Linked DNA regions of Homo sapiens: region 2 is linked to region 1. Evidence: fine-mapped expression QTL. Tissue or cell type: whole blood. Region 1 holds a variant in brackets; the other region holds the start of a gene. All regions are shown on one strand. Distances are between the middles of the regions.

Region 1 (8,000 bases):
GAGTAAGCCCTTTGTCACCAATGCCCCTGGAAGGGCTGAGGGGAAGGTACCAGACACAAGAACAGCTCTGATGTCCCTCCGCCCAGCCGCCGCCACCACCGAACGGCACATTCAACCTCAAGGCCACAGCTGCTGTCTCCCCACTGCCCAGTCCCACCTCTGCAGTCTCTCACCCCAATCGCAGCCCTTGCCAGAGCAAGCATGCACCATCCCACTCGACCCATATGCACCAGGCTCAGTCCAGCCAGCCGCTCACTCAGCCTGCGAGGGTCTGGACTTCTGGCCCCCTACCTACAATAGCAGGCTCCCCTCCAGGCCCCCACGAACCTCTCCCCAGACACAACCACACCAAACATCAGCTCTCCTCTTCAAGATGCCCCTCCACCCCCTGGACCAGGAGGCCCTTTCTGTTTACAACCCCAGCAGAGCCCAGGGGCTCATCCCAAGACACCTGCCTGCTTGTGTGAGGCTCTATGGTTCCTGTCAGCCCCACCCCCATCCCACCCACCCCCACAAGCCCAAAATATTCTACTCACTTTGCTGCCATGGCAAGGGGGTACTGGAAGCCATACTGCTGCTGGGCGGAGGGGGTGGCGGAGGCTGCTGCTGCTGTTGTTGCCATGGGGGAAGAGGACCAGAGGGAGGGGGTGGGGGCTGCCCACTGGGAGGCGGCGGCGGCGGCGGCATCATGCCCATAGGTGGTGGCGGCATCATACCTGTGGACAGGTGGAGGCAAAGATGAGGCCTCAGGGAAAGGCGGGGACTTGGGCCAGAACCCCCACTCACCCAAGCCTAGGTGAAGACCCACAGCCAGCAGACAGCCATTACCTTTTCCTTGATGCAGGCGATAGACCCCAGAGCCCACAGGCGTACTTCCCAGGTACTGATCTTGATGGAAGGAAAGAGCAGGGACTTAGCAGGACATTGGAACTGGCCAGGGAAGCCACCCCTGTGATAACCTCAGTTGCTATCCTTACGCGAGTTCTGAAAACCATGCCTGTAAAAGGCAGGTCTGTGCTTACCCAACACAGAATCACTCCCTGAACCAGAATGGAGTCTTGCTCCTTCCAGAGCCACAACCCTGGCAAGCCAGGCAGACCCAGCACATTGCCCAGCCACTTGAGAGCTGCTTCTAGCCAACAGCGACCTGACGTAACCCCTTGCTTATCCCAAAGCCCCCAAGGTTTCTGGTCTGACACTTACTTACCCATTGGAGGAGGGCCATGGTGCCCAGGAGGGTGGGGGCCCTGGTTCATCGGTGGTGGTGGTGGCTGCATCCAAGGGGGTGGGGGTCCATTGGGGTTGTGCTGCATGGGATGTCCACCATGCCCACCTGTCAGGCTGGGTAATGGGTGTGGGAAGCTGTGGGGGCCACCTCCGGGCCCACCAGGACCACCTCCATGCATGCCGTGGTAGGGCCGACTCTCTGAAGGGCCAGAATTCATCCAGGGTGGGCGGCTCTGGGTGGTAGACATGAGAGACTACGTGAGAGCATTTCCTGCCAACGTCCCTGCCTGCGCCTCCTAGTGGCAACATTGTTCTTCGGGTTATGACACAGGACCAGAACACAAGAACAAGGTCTTCCCGAAGTGAGAAGTCCCCAAACTGGCCTGAGATCCCGGAAGAACAATGTTGCCATCCACATCCATTGTCTGCTCTACCCAAACCACGTGGCCATAGCTCCCAGTCTCTGCAGTAGAGAATGGGGAAGCCAGACCAAGAGAGCCAGCCCCCAGGCTCACCGGTGGAGGTGGGTTGTTGGCGGGAGCAGCAGGACGAGGTGCGCTGGCCAGGGGTGTGGTGGCAGGCCCAGAGGTGGAGCCCACAGATGCTGGGACAGGTGCTTCACCCAGTTCAGCCATGAGGGACAAATATTCTTTATCCATCCGTGCTTTATCCTGAGCTGACTGAGGATCACCAGGCCTGAAGTGGGGTGGGGGACACAAACAGAGAAAGGGGAAAAACTTGTTAAGAAGGAAGCTTTTATCCTGAGGAACCAACATATGGAAAGTTCTGAAGAATTCAATCACCAGATCATCACACATCTTTCTAACCCCTTACTGGGCATGGCTCTCAACAGTCTCATCAGATCTTCAGTTTCGTGCCCAGTTCTGCATCTGGGATCACCAGAGTAGAGGGGCCCCTGGGCGAAGAGCACAGGAGACCCTGAGCACCGATGAAGCACAGGTTCTCTCAAGTCAATTTCATCAAACTTCATTCCCAGTTTGAGGAAAGGAAAATCTATGCAAGACTGGCACAACTGCCAGAACGAACTTCCTAAACAAAACCTTACATATTCGCCAGCCAGTCAGAAAGTGTTGATATCGAGTGCTGACTTGCAACTGGTCAGAAATCTGTAGAGATTGCTTAGTCTTCTTGAACCAATTCTGAACAGCAAAAGCAGTGAATTTCCTATTGAGCCCCAGTAAAAACATACCCAAAATGGAAACTTCCAGTTTTCTTGGGCTCAAGACAAACAAACAGGGGTATCTGTACAGCCTATTTCTAATCATCCTGGGCTTTAAATCACACCATTACAGACCACACTAACAGAAAGGATGTTTCTCTTGGTAAGATTAACAGCAACCAATGAATGTGCCAGAAAAGTTGTCCTGCACATCGCAGGCTACCAGGAAACCGCAAGAGCCAGCCCCTCACCTTTGGAATTTACAGTCTGAAGCAATGTGGCCAGCCCCTCCACACTTGGTACACACTGTGGTGTTGGTAATGCTGCGGGTCTCTGAGCTCTGCCAGGGTCTTAAGATCCTATTAAAGGAAAAAGAGGTCAATGCAAGGGAACAATCTCTACTTCCATAGGTTCTTCAGGTCTCTACACTCTCCTTTAAACTGATCACATACCTGTTATCGTCTTCCCGAAGGGTCCCATTTAAGCGAGCCAACTCCCGAAGCTGCATCTTCCGTAGATCATTCTGGTCCTCTGGAGTCTCGATACCCTGCTTCAGGATGTTTCTTATCTAGTGAAAATGCAATGGACAGTTAAGTGCTTAGGGCCTCCACCTAGGTTTCTGCTAGGAGGCTTCCTTTCTGGGCTCACCGCTCACCTGTTCCACTGCCTTTTTGACGTTCTCCATTGTATTGGCAGTAACCAGGGCATGAAGTGGCTCATCTTCTCCTGGCAACATCTGGCCATCTTTGCGCCCAACCTTCCCTTCTTTCACAGACCCTTTCCCCCGGATCATAATCTTGGCATTGCACTCCTTCTCTATGTTCTTCAGGGTGTTCCCTCTAGAGAGGCAGAAATGACTAAGTTTATACCTGACAAATTCACACTCAAGAGGGAAGAGAGGCTGGACCAATTTGGCATTGGTGGGAAACCACAAGCGCAGAGAATTGGATTTTCCCACCAAGAGCTCCATGAACTCTATATTATGGTCAGCCACAGTAAACCTGAGGATTTGACTTCTCCGCACTAGTGGGGAAGTTAAGACACCTTCTCACAGAAAGGCATTAATTCAGCCAAAATGAAATGTCCTACCAAAAAGGGGAAAAGTAAGCCAACAGTCCCCAATTAGGCACAAAACGGACACATCTCACAGGCTCTAAAGGAATTCTATATCCTATAGACCAGCAGTTACTCACCTGGGCCCGATGAGCAGCCCCACAAAGTTGATTTCTGGGTACTCATCTTGTGGAATCATGACTTTATCACTCACACGTGTTGCTGGAGGTCTAAGAAAGAAAAGCCTGTGTCACCGCACATTTCTGGAGAATGACACAGCCAGCGGCTTTTCTAAAACCAAATATTGGTACCAAGTGCTAATTATGGGTGACTTGAGGCAAGAGGTGAGTAGTACCAATACTGTCCCATCCCAGCAGGTCACCCATGATCTGCATGTGTCTTCATCCCAGATGACCGAGCCCCTCCGCTTACTTGTAATCTGCAGGTGGCTTGAAATCCGGATTGAGTGCAACCATCTCTGTGATGAGGTTGTGCCGCTCCTCTTCCAGCTTTTTGCGGGTGCGGAACTCTCGGGTGTTAAGCCGCTTCCCCTCGCTATTGTAGATGGGCTCAGGGGAAGGGGACCTGTGGGAAACAGACTCCCGTTTACTATTCTGCACCGACTTCTCTCATTCCCACACGGACTATAACAAGTCTTTCCCAGCCCCTCTGCCTCTCAGACCCTAATACAACACTCTTCGGAGGAACCGACCATAACGTGTGCTACTCAAGATCGTGTGGAATGGGGAGATGGAAGCTGGCTTAACGTTAGGGGTCTGGGGTGTGTGTGAGAAAGGAAAAAAATAAAAGATTTTGCATCTAGAAGTGATGAGAGGAAAAAATGTCTATTCTTTGGGGAAAATCTTTGGACTGTAAGTGGCAAGGACAGTATCATCCCCTGGAGTCTTCTTGCCAAATACGGATTTTCTTCCATTTGAAAAAAAATACATATCCCAACTTTATGAACCACAGAAACCCCAAGTTTAGGCAAAAGGTTAACTCTTGGAGAGCTCATGCCCTATGAGGAAAAGCTTCTGTACCCCTAACACA[T/C]AGTATGTATGAGCTCTTTAACCCAATGCAACTGGGACTGAAGGCTACTGCAGCTACTTGGCCCCCACAATGGAGAGAGATGGTTCGCTTCGTCTTTGCTTTTCCTTCAATGGCCTGGCTGGCTGTGTCCAAGGCCCAGGAGACAACCTGTTTTCTGGCTGTTCGAGGTTGGGGAGTCTGGGTAGAGAAAAACGTTAAAGTGCTAAAGCAGCTTCTGCGAGAGGCTGCAAATGCAGATTTGGTCATACTTGTCTAGGGTCTGAACCTGCAAACAGCAAGGGGAAAACCTATGATTCTCCACCAGAGTTTACAAGTCCAGAAAGCAGATTTTCTCTCTCTCATTTTTTTAAGGAGTAAAATGCTGTTGCTACAAGTAAAAAAATGTAATGATAAAATGGTCAGTTTACCACAGCTGGATTTTGCGGTAATAAAAAAGAGAGGTTACACTCCTAGAATTTTGAGTTAAGATTACAAAAAGGACCATAGCTTGATATTCTGAATGAAAATTTAGTAGCAGCTGCAAGAAGGGAAGAGACCATGTGGATCAGGTTATTAAAAAAACATACTGAAAGTAATCAAGACTCCTATACCCTTGGTTTAGTTGAGAGAACCTTGCCTAGTTGGAGAGCAAGGACTGAACTCGGCTGCTCCCACTGTCTTCAGCCTAAAGGGAACCATGTCACACCACGTTACACACACGATGGAATAAAAGGTCAGGTTTGTTCATGGCTAATGACGGCTAAATGACACCTCCGTTTCTAGCATTTGTATAAACTGTTAGCACAATCCATTAAGAGTGAACAAAAGCAAACATACCCCAGCTCATTAGACTACCATCTTATACATTTAAGTCTACAAGAAAAGTTTTAAACATGTTTTTACTGTGCAAGTTAAGCAGCATCAAAATAACAATAAAGTGGCTTAAGTGATATAACACCTTTTTAAGAAATTATCTTAATTAAGAAAACCCATGCATTTCCCTCCAACCTGGGCTCAAAAGCAAAACCAATCAGGCATTAGGGCCTCTTTCAAAACTGAATAGAAGGGAGGAAAAACCCTGCTCTGGTTTTATTTCTAACATGCTTGACATTTCTAATTCCCACCCCACAGCTGTCTAGAATTAAGCATTCTTAGCTAGTTACAAAAACAAGTCTTACCAGCACCCAATTGGCCATGTGAAGGCCTCACAACAGTTTAACCTCCTCCCAAATTGCAGAAGTGAAAGGCAAAAGCTAGTATTCTAGAGGTTAGACTGGCCCGACTTCTTCACCTCCAACAGGCATCGGCTAGATCAACTAAATTCTAATCCCAGTTATCCAGGAAGCAAAGAAGGTTTGTTAAAAATTCAACCTTTGGAGGAATTGACTGGTGACCTGTAGACATATTATTAAAGGGAAAAAGGCCAAAAAGGCACTAAACAGTTGTGGTCTATGACCTACAATGTAAATTTAAAAAAAAAAAAAATCTTCAAAAAGAAACGAAACACAACACAACCCTACAACCAAAATCTATCTATAGGTAAAATATAGCAAATGTAGTAAGTCAAATTAAAGAGTCAATATGGAGAAACAAGGAAGTTAATGTTTCCTGGCAAAGGGCGGAAGAAAGATGCATGAGTGAGTGACTTCTAAAGCCATTACATCATCTTCCTGATTTAATAAGCTATTAACTGGGTAACAAAAACCAAAAACACTACTTTTTAAAGCAAAGTCTTTTCAACTATTCTGTATGTACTAAGAGAAAATTCAGTGAGAGGGAGAGACTTACTGCCCTTCTAATTAAATGACCAATTTTAGCTGTTCAATCAGCTAATAAAATTCCAGTTTAAAAAAGTTCATCTCCCCCACACAATTTATTTTTCTGAGGTGAGAGAAACTGCAAACTGAAATGACATGACCACAGCTGTTTGAGGCCCACGCTCCCTTTAAGGAAAAAAAAAAAGTAATTTAGGGTTGGTTGCATGCCTTCCCAAAATAGGTGAGAATATTCTGGCCCCTCCCAACACCCCCAAGGCAATGGCCAAGGCTGAAAGTTAACTGGCAGTGAAAGAAGTTGGTTAGAAATCTCATCTGATTTTGAAACCATCTCAAAACCATGAGCAGGAAGACTGCAGCAATGAGCTGACCAGAGCTCCTGGCTTGCTCAAGTTCAGTGATGCTCAAAAATATTTTTAGTCCCTGCACTGTGTACCTGTGAGAAAAACTCTATGCCCTGGGCTTTTGGCCAAAGCAGGTACTGAAAAGGCAGGTTAACGGGCCACCTCACTGTCCCCTAAGGGTGGGTAAATCAGGTTAAGATCTACATGCTTACCAATTGGAAACCAGTTGTCCATTTTCCTGTAACTTTTTATTCTCCCAACATTTTTAAGTTTTATTCCAATTTTCTAACTGTTGACTGACCATACATATTTCTAATTAAACCTTAATCCCCAAAGTGGTCAGGGTACAGTCGTCATACTATGATTTTATTGAACTGACACAATATGTTGCCACCAGTAAAACGTATTGAGAAAAAGGTAAAAGCGTTACTGTCAGCTGGTTAAAACTGTTTCCCAACCTGTCCTCAGGGTTAGGGGGGATGCCCAGGTCTCCTGTGCGCAGTTTACGAGTCAGGTCTTCTATCTGCAGTTGCACTGGAAGAAACCAGGTTAGGAAAGAAAAAAAAGGATGGAAAAAAGACAATGTTACCAATAAACATCTCAAATCTCAACAACAAGCATGAAGAACTCGGAGACTTTGAAAGGGACGACTGATCAGTGAACACATTGAAGCAAAAACCCCCAACCACCTATCGGCAGGAGTCCTTTTACATCTATAGGTTTTTTTCACTTCAAAATGGTTATCACTTAAGGAAGCAAACAGTTTGTTGGAAGAGGGGTTAGCAATAAAGACTGTTCACTAAGGCTAACATCCAAGCAATTATTAGGAGGTGTTTCACCTCTTCCTCCCCACCAAGGCTTGCTTACCATTGGTACCCAGAACCATAAACCATGTTACGTCACCAATACCCGACTCCCATCAAATTACTTGAGGGCAAGAATTGAGTTTTTTCTTCATTAAATGTTAAACATAGCCCAAAATGAGACCCAATTAACATGGGACAAGGAAAAATACCAATTGAGCAAAGATCATTTTCATTAATACATTTAAAATTCCTTAAATAAGACATTTAATAACAAAATTCAACACCTTATAGAAATTTGTACATACTCTTTCTGTACAACCAGACCTGTACTAGTAAGGGTCTCCCAATACCTGCAGCTCTTATTCAATTATATGAAATATTTATTCAAATATTAAATGACAAACCACATATCTTAATAAACCAGTAACCATAAAGTGCTAAGAATTTGTTTTCAGGCTCACTGTTCATATGGGGAGCAGGCGTGTAGAAGAATGGAATGTGTGTTCAAGGACAATGTACTTGGCCCTCGGGCCTTGACCAATGAGGCTGTGCATGAAAAAGAGAGATGAGGGTTTCACAAAAGTTG
Region 2 (8,000 bases), 32 kb after region 1:
CCGCCCAGCCTAATTTTTGTATTTTAAGTAGAGGTGGAGTTTCACCATGTTGGCAAAGCTGGTCTTGAACTCCTGACCTCAGGTGATCCACCCACCTCAGCCTCCTAAAGTGCTGGGATTACAGGCATGAGCCACCACGCCCGGTCAGAGGTCAGCCTTTCTGCCGCCCCTGCCACCCCCTGCAGCTTCCCCATACCTCACTTACCCACTCAACTCTTCCTTTCCCAGTAGTGTCCACTCTTCCTCCCACTGGGGGAAACCAAGGTAGAGACCGGGGAAGAAGCAGAGACAGATGCAACGTGAGAGGGCGCTCAAGAGATTCAGGAAAGGAAAGACAGACAGACAGACAGACGGGAAAGGTGAGATGGAAACACACAGAAGATGAGAGAGACAGACAGTGGGAGGCAGAGCTGAAGACTGTGAAAGAAAGGGCAACAGACAGCGAGGGAGGAAGAGACAGGCTGGGGGGTGAGGAGAGACCAGTGACAGAGCCGATGAGGGCAGAGACAGAAAGTCAGACCACTGGGGACACACAGGTGGGAAAACGAGGCTGAGCAGGGTAGGGTGAGGGCTCAGGCACATGACGGCCTCCTTTTGGGAAAGGCATGGTCTCTGTGCTACCTTCCAGACACCCACCTAAAAGAACTTGGCCCAGGAAGGAGCCCCTAACCCTCCAGGTCCCTGGGTAGGACAGGCTTGCTTGGACAGTCTAAGGCCCAAGGCCCGAGGCCACCCAGCTTCAAATCTCCCTTGATTTGAGCTGCTCGGCCTCCATCCGACCTCCCTGCCCCACCTCTGGGCACCACCTTCCCCTCAAGGCCTGCCCACTCACCGGCTCATTCAGTGGGTCAGTTTCCTTCCTGCGTGGGGCGCCAAATTTCACCTGGTGAACTGGGGGGCCCAGAGTACAAGAGTGAAGGAGCTGGAGTCTCAGGATGGACCTCTACTCACACCAAATCCATGTGCACACAGGCCCCCCAAAATCTGCACACACACAGCCCCTGCTGCAGACTCACACTGGATCTCCGAGGGGGTCCTCTCGGCTGGGCCGTGCTGCCCCCGGGAGTGAATGGTGTCTGGAAACATGTCATAGGTCTAAGGAAAAACAGAAACAGTGTGGACACACCTGGCACGCGCCTCATGCCGGGGCTGCTCTAGGAGCTTCACACGCACCAGTGCGTTTTGCTTTCATGACAGCCCTCTGGGACTACTGTAAAATAAAATGGAACCCCACTTCACAGATGAGAGAACCCACACAGAGCAGTGCCAAAGATCACACAGAAAGCAAGAAAATGGCACAGTCGTGGTCATGGTCAGCTTGGACTCAAGGGCAGGGACCTATCAAGGGGGTGGTACAGGAAACAAAAGTCAGCATGACAGAGACTCCTAATGGGAGGGCTCAGCTGAGGCCAGCTCCCTGAGCTGGAATGGTGCCAGTTAAAGGACCTCCACCAACATCACCCTCGGGCTCTTTCTAAGCAGACCAGCCCAAGACTCACTTTCCAGCCCCCCTCACCTACCTCCAGCTCACAGTCCTCAGGGGAGGGGGTCCCCAGATGAGGGTCACTGGCTTTGTCCAGCAGCTGTGTGAGGAGGGCCCGAGGGAGCTGCTGAGTCGTGAACGGGTGCTGGAAAGTGGGGGAGGGGGGTGATCAGGTTGGCCCCTGATCCAGGGCCCTGCTTTTGAGTACTGGGCCTCTCTCCCGGCCCCCTGCCTCCCACCTGCAGGAGCTTCTCTGCTGTCGGCCTCTTCTTAGGATTCTTGGTCAGGGCCAGTTTGAGAAAGTGGTGGAAATTCTGGGTCCTAGAAGGCACAAGAGCCCCCCAGCGCCAGATCCAGGTTAGCCCTCGTGCAGGGTGTCCTGCCAGCTGCCCTACCACCCCTCCAGAGGCGTCTGCTGGGCCCACCCAGGAAGGAGCCAGCCGAGGCCAAGGGCCACTGGCCGAGCAACGCTGCCTTGCGACACAGCGGCTCCTCCACCAACCCTCTGCCCTTCTTTCCTGACCACGCTGGGTCTTCAACCCACAGAAGGACCAGGCCCCTGACTCAGATGGTCTGTAGTAGCCCAGAAAGGACAGGGCTCTTGGGGTTGCCCCCCGGGAGTTGGCAGAGGCTGTTTGTCCACTATGGGGCTGACAGAAAAGGGGGTCCCGGCAGCAGGGTGTGGCCCTTACCAGCGAGTCTTATCTCTCAGTTTGGGCGGCTGGAAGCTGCTCTTCGACATGAGCATCAGGGCCCTGTGGAGGGCGCGAGGTCAGGGGCCACAGGCCGCAGATCAAGGGTCAGGTGAGGGGCAAGTGTTGGGCTGACCTCATGGGGTGCAGGTGGAACAGAGGGGGCTGCAGCTCGCCCAGCTCAATGGCAGTGATGCCCAGGGCCCAGACGTCACATAGCTCATTGTAGCCACCTTTGCGCTCCACAGCAGCCACCTCGGGAGCCATCCTAGAGGTGGGGTCACAGATGGGATGGCCGGGTGCCCTGCTCTGTGGCCCCTACCCCTCCGCCCCAGGCGCAGCCTCACCAGTAGGGAGTCCCAATGAAAGACCTCCTCTTGGCCACAGACGCTGTCAGCTCGCCTGACACCCCAAAGTCAGCTGTGGGGAGAAACAGCCACTCTCACCAGCCCTCTGGCTGCCACTCACCCTCCCACGCCCAGGGCTCTGGCTCGGCTGCACCTGGCAGGGCTCAGACGGGCAGGTGGCCCCGCTTGGTCACAGCTGCCGCAGGCCCTAGGCAAGGCCAGGTCCCTCTCCTGAGAGGGGTCAACCACCCTCTATCCCTGACGGAGTGCCTGGTCCCATGTCAACTCCGTGCAGACCCAACCTCCTCTATTTTCCAGCAGGGAGGGAGTACCGTTCCATCTTCTAAGCAGGGAAACTGAGACTCAAGTGGCAAAGTGACTTGCCCAGTGACACCCAACCCTTGAGTCCAGGGTAGCCGGGGAGGGTCCACAGAGCCCTCACCCTGATGGTGTCCCCAGGGTACTGACCCAGTTTGACATCTCCCTGGAGAGTGAGGAGAAGGTTGGCTCCCTGTGGGAATGGAGGAGAGACAATCCCATCTGGTGCCCCCGAGGGCCTCCTCCTCCCTCCCCAGGAGTGCCCCCAGCTAGGTGCCTACCTTGATGTCTCTGTGGATCTTCCCCTGAGAATGCAGGTGGTGGAGCCCCTGGCGACAAAGAGGAGTCCCTGAGAGCAGCCACCCAGCACTGTCCCACCTCCCCAAACCCCCTCTCAGGACTGGGGCCCCCCACTCAGGCTGCTTCTTCCTCCCCTCTCCCCAAACAGGAAGTGACTGAGCCAAGAGGGAAATGGACTGCTTCCGGCAACAGGGCTGGGGCCCCTTTTCCCCAGGACCTACAGCCCCTCGGGCCAGCCCCACCCGAGGCACTCCACCCGCCTCCCTGCTGGTCATCTGGGCTCCTGGCCCACAGCTTCTGGAGACCAGAGGTGTGGGCACCTCACAGGCCCAGCTACCTTCAGTGCCTCTCGGCAGACGTAGGCAATCTGCCGCTCCTCCAGGGGCCCAGTGGCTGAAAGGAAAAGGGAGAGGCTGGCTTGGGGGCCCGGGGGTCATGCCCACCCTCCCAGGCTACCGTGTGTGGGAAAAGCAGCAGGCACTGTTAAATGAAAGCGGTGTTGGCCACGTCCCCTCCCAGTTTAGTCTAGGATACTGAACCCAGAGATGGACAGTATTTCTCTCAAGGTCACACAGCCAGGCAGGAGTGGAGAGGAGCCCAAGTCCAGGGCCCAGAGTCCCCTCTGGTACCCCAGTGGGGTAGGGGTGGGGGAAGGCTGGGGCCTGCTGGGGCCTGGAGCCCTGGCCTCACCATGGTAAATCTCCTGCAGGGAGCCCCCTCCGCAGAACTCCATGCAGATCCACAAGCGGTCATTCCTAGGGACAAAGAGCTGGGGTGGGCACAAAGCAGGTCACATGGGGGCTGCCTGGGGCCAGGAGGATAAGGCAGCCTCACCTGAGGTAGCTGCCAATGTAGGCCACCACATTGGGGTGGCGGCACTCACGCAGGATGGTGATTTCCTGCTGGAGGGAGCTGATGTCGTCCCCTGGGAAGCACAAAGCATCATGGGGAAGGCGCGCTGGGGTTGCCCTGACTCAGTGCCCCCATCTGCAAAATGGGCACAGAGTGCCTCCCTCCGGGCCAGGCAGGTGCAGGTGACAGCACCTCCCGGGGCACGCCTCTCAGGGGTCTCGGAAACGTCAACCCTCCGCCCGCACCCCGCGCCCGCGGGCGCTCTGCCCTTCCTCTGGCGCAGAGGCCCGACCCGGGCCCTCACCTGGGTCTAGCTTGACTATCTTCACGGCGGCCAGTTCGGACGTGACCGTGTCGCGGGCCTGCAGGGGCGGAGGGTGAAGCGGGATGGGGGGCGGGGCCGGGGGCTAGATCCTGCCGCGGGGTGCGGGGCTGGCACCCTCCTCCCGGCTCTCCCGCCCGTCCCGTCGCACCTTGTAGACGTCGCCATAGGTCCCGGCCCCCACGCGCTGCAGCAGCTCGAAGCGGTCCCGCGGGTCCTGCAGCGACACATCCCGCAGCAGCGCCATGGCCCGGCGCCGGGCGGGCCGGCAGGCGGGCGGGCGCGAGCTGCGGAGCCGGCGCGGGGCGGCGCGGGGCGGGGCGGGCGCCCGTGGCTCTGAGGCCGCGGGGGCGGGGCTGAGGCCCGGGGGCGGGGCCGCGCCGGGGATGCCCCACCGCCAGTCCGGGAGGAGGCGCCCGCGGGACGGGCCCTCGGCGGCGCGGGGAAGCCCCAAGGCCGGGGCGGAGCCTACGTCCTTCCGCCGCCACTGTCGCTCGCGCTCCACAGGTAGGGAGCGCAAAGTCCCGGGAGCCAGAAGACAGAGGGAAGAGGGGGCGCTCCACTCCCCGCCCCATCCCCAATTTCCCAGATAAACATGGACTTGCGCTTTATATTTTTTTTAACAAAATGTATTCATCTTTCTTGGAACTGAAAAATAAATCTATGTACAAAACAGGAAGAGATCAGGCTCTTGTCACCCACTCCTAACCCTCTGCAGATTTCCTCCGGGATGCTCCGAGATGGGCTGGACCTCTGGGAGGTTCCCAGAGGGTCGGAAGGGAGGTCCTGCTCTGATCCGGGGCCAGTTTCGTCAGGAAGAGGGCGGGGCTCAGGATGCTCATAGGCTGGGGGCGGAGTTTTGTGTCCCAGACTCGGGATACGAAGGAGAGGAAACTAGGATTTCCAAATTCTGGAGCAGGACTGAAGTTATTTGGGGCAGGGAGCTTGGATTCGCAAGATATGGAATTCTGAAGTGCGGAAATATACTCCTAGGGGCTGAGTGGTCCTAGGCTCCCGGGCTGGAGGTGGGACCTGTGCTCCTTGGGTTAAGGGTGAAACCTCAGCTCCTACAAGCTGGGAGGAGCCCTGAGTAACGTTGGTCTGGCTCTAGGTGAGCGGTTCCGAGGAGGAGCTTGGGTTTCTAGGGGCTGGGCCTTTAAAGACTGGTAATTAGGACCCAGCGTGAGGTTTCCATTGGCCGGCTGGGATTCTGGGAGAAGAGACCTATATTCTAACGACTGGGGCAGAGCCCTGGGTTCTGAGCTGGAGAAAATCGTGGGTTTGATACAGACTGTACTCGGGACCGGGAACCTAGGGTTTGGGTAGAGGTGAGGCCTGTCCCCTTTGGGCTGGGGGCAGAACATGGGCTCAGAGTTGGGGGACTAAGGGCGGAGCCTGGGTCCCCACAAGCGGTCCGAAGTCCCCAGTAGTTCAGAGGCCTTTGCGCTGCCGCTTGAGGAAAGACAGAGTGTAGTCACTAGGGGTGGACACTTTCTGCTTCTTCATCTGCACTTGCGACTGTGCCGTGAGTTGCAGCTTGATGGCGCTCGAGTTGATCTTGGTGGCCACCAGCAGCTCCTTCATGCCCTTCATCTTCTCACTCTGGAAAGTGAGCACTGGACCCTCCGGCGGTGGTGATGCTGTGGGTGCTGGCACCTGAGCCGTGCTGCCACCTTCAGGGCCTCGGGCTGTGCCAGCGACAGTCCCAGGAGGCTTCCGGGGGGGTCCTGACACTGCACCCTGGCCGGTGCCCAGGCCCTTGTCCAGTGCTGGCTTCTTGGGCGGCGGGGGCTCCTCTGGCTTGGACTCCCGCCGTGGGCCCCGCCGCCGGCCTTCCCGGGCTTCCTCGCCCCACGGCTCCTCGGCCTCGGCCGCCTCGGCCTCTCGGCTCACTATGCGCACCTTCTGCCGCACCTGGGCCAGTGGGGAGAGCAAGGTGAGAGCAAGGTTGCCGGCCAGTGGCTGGAACTCCAGGACCCTGCTCTGGCCATCCCATCCCACCCAGGGGGTCTCAGTCCCATCGGCACCCAAGGGGATGGGCAGATGCTGCCCCTGGGCCAGAAAAGTCTGACAAGCCCGTGGCTGCTGTCACCACCTGTAGTGCCCAGACCTCTGTGCAGCTGTCCCTCACCTGTCCCTCAAAACGGCCTAGGGACTGCACAAGAAAGGTGGCCCAGCCCACATGCAGCACAGGCGTGGGACTGCCCTCCTCCCATTTGCAGATGCCGTCGTAGAATCGCAGCAGGTGGGCGAAGCACTCAGGGTCCTGGAGGGCGGAACCTTGGCTCTGGGTGCCCTGGACGAGGGGGAAGGGAGGGCACAGATCAGTCTCTTACTCACCCCTTAGCAGAGGGCACAGGCCAGGCCCCCCACCTAGGCAAAGACCCCTGGCTCCAGAAAAGGTAAGCATAGGTTGGGAACATTCTTAGAACCTCTTTCCTTTTATAAAGCCAATCCATAGCCAGGACGTACCATCCCTACCTCCACCCCTCAGCTGAGGGAGGGAGTCTGGCCATGAAACTGAAGGCACAGGGTAGAAACCTCTAAAATACCTTCAGTCCCGTCCAACGTGGGCCCAGGACCTCAGTTATAGCAAAAGGGAACATAGCTGTCTGCTCAGGGCCACCTTCCTCCTGCCATCCCTAATCCCGTACATGCAGCCCCCATGGCCTGTGGAAGGGAGCCCTGTCCAGGTGGGAGGCTGGACACAGGCTGGAGCTCCAGCCTTTCACCTGGCTTTGCTCCCCCGGCCGCTCCTCGCCCGCCTCCAGCAAGCTGGCTGCCTCCTTCAGCAGGTTGGGGATGACATCATTGGCTACTTCAAAGAACTCCTTGTAGATCTCCTCGTCTTCCCGGCAGTAGTTGTAGCTGTGAGAGCAGTGGGGTCTCTGTAGGGTCTGAAGGGGTCTCACCATCGGGGGTAGCCCCAGGGACCTGGCGGGGGATGGAGCCCCCAGGGGCTGGGGGAGTAGGTGGGGTCCTCACTGCAAAATGATGCTGTCTGGGTCAGCCCAGAGGAAGAAAGCAAGAATGAGGAGGGGGGCATGGGGCCGAGGGTGGAAGTCCCACTGCTGGATGATGGTGGTTAAACATTGGAGATTTGAGACTGTTCTGAGAAAAAAAAAATTAGGAGGAGAGGGGAGGGAGGGAAAGATGTGACACCTTAATCAGGGTCCCTACCTCCTGGGTAATGGTGGCCTTGCTGCCTAGGGACTGGATGGAAAGGGGATGGGGCGTGGGAGCCAGGCCTCAGTCCTGGACGAGGGTGGTTGGAAACTGATGGAGGGGAAGAAAGGACAGGCTGCAGGCCCTAGTAGGGGGATCCTCACTCCTGGATGACAGTGGCCGTGTCCGCCCAGGCCTGCAGGGCTTCCCGCACATTGCGGTTGCGACAGTGGTAGCCAGCCAGGTACATGTAGGGGTAGATGTGTTCATCCCGATAGTAGGTCTTGGCTGAGGCAATGCCCTGGATGGAGGTGAGGCAGAGGATCCTCAGGGAGGCAGCCCCAGCTGCCCTGCTGGCACAAATGCCCCACCAGGGCACACCCAGAAGGGGCCACAGGAAGATCCCAGGGAGTCCTCTCCATCTCCACTCCCACCTCCACTCGCTGCCAGCCCTTCTACCTGGTCTCCTCCCTGGGTCTACAGGACTGCTGGCTGAGGCCTGGGGCAGACTGCAGGGGTGG

What was found. PIP is the estimated chance that this variant, and not a neighbour inherited with it, causes the effect.
Region 2: MAP4K2 starts here. The variant in region 1 is fine-mapped to the expression of MAP4K2 in whole blood (INTERVAL, PIP above 0.99).

What each region holds. Positions count from the first base shown.
Region 1 is chr11:64,766,364-64,774,363 of GRCh38, forward strand. SF1 (splicing factor 1) reads right to left here. Exons shown (of 13, transcript NM_004630.4): 3 at 7,067-7,142; 4 at 3,893-4,045; 5 at 3,601-3,690; 6 at 3,063-3,246; 7 at 2,860-2,975; 8 at 2,659-2,766; 9 at 1,743-1,923; 10 at 1,208-1,481; 11 at 829-888; 12 at 537-716. Among named protein-coding and RNA genes, the nearest start is that of SF1, 8.2 kb to the right of the region's middle. RefSeq lists enhancers at 1-246, 247-1,120, 6,373-6,462. The variant T/C (reference allele first, on the strand shown) is at 4,511.
Region 2 is chr11:64,798,589-64,806,588 of GRCh38, forward strand. It overlaps MAP4K2 (mitogen-activated protein kinase kinase kinase kinase 2), which reads right to left and starts at 4,626. Exons shown (of 32, transcript NM_004579.5): 1 at 4,466-4,626; 2 at 4,297-4,354; 3 at 3,975-4,065; 4 at 3,831-3,895; 5 at 3,478-3,533; 6 at 3,122-3,169; 7 at 2,991-3,033; 8 at 2,523-2,595; 9 at 2,312-2,443; 10 at 2,176-2,238; 11 at 1,723-1,804; 12 at 1,521-1,628; 13 at 1,017-1,095; 14 at 833-891; 1 more. The coding sequence starts at 4,561. MEN1 (menin 1) reads right to left here. Exons shown (of 10, transcript NM_001370259.2): 7 at 7,644-7,780; 8 at 7,047-7,182; 9 at 6,446-6,610; 10 at 4,928-6,228. The coding sequence ends at 5,746. RefSeq lists silencers at 1,189-1,483, 4,256-4,435, 4,586-4,765 and enhancers at 2,556-2,605, 2,696-2,745.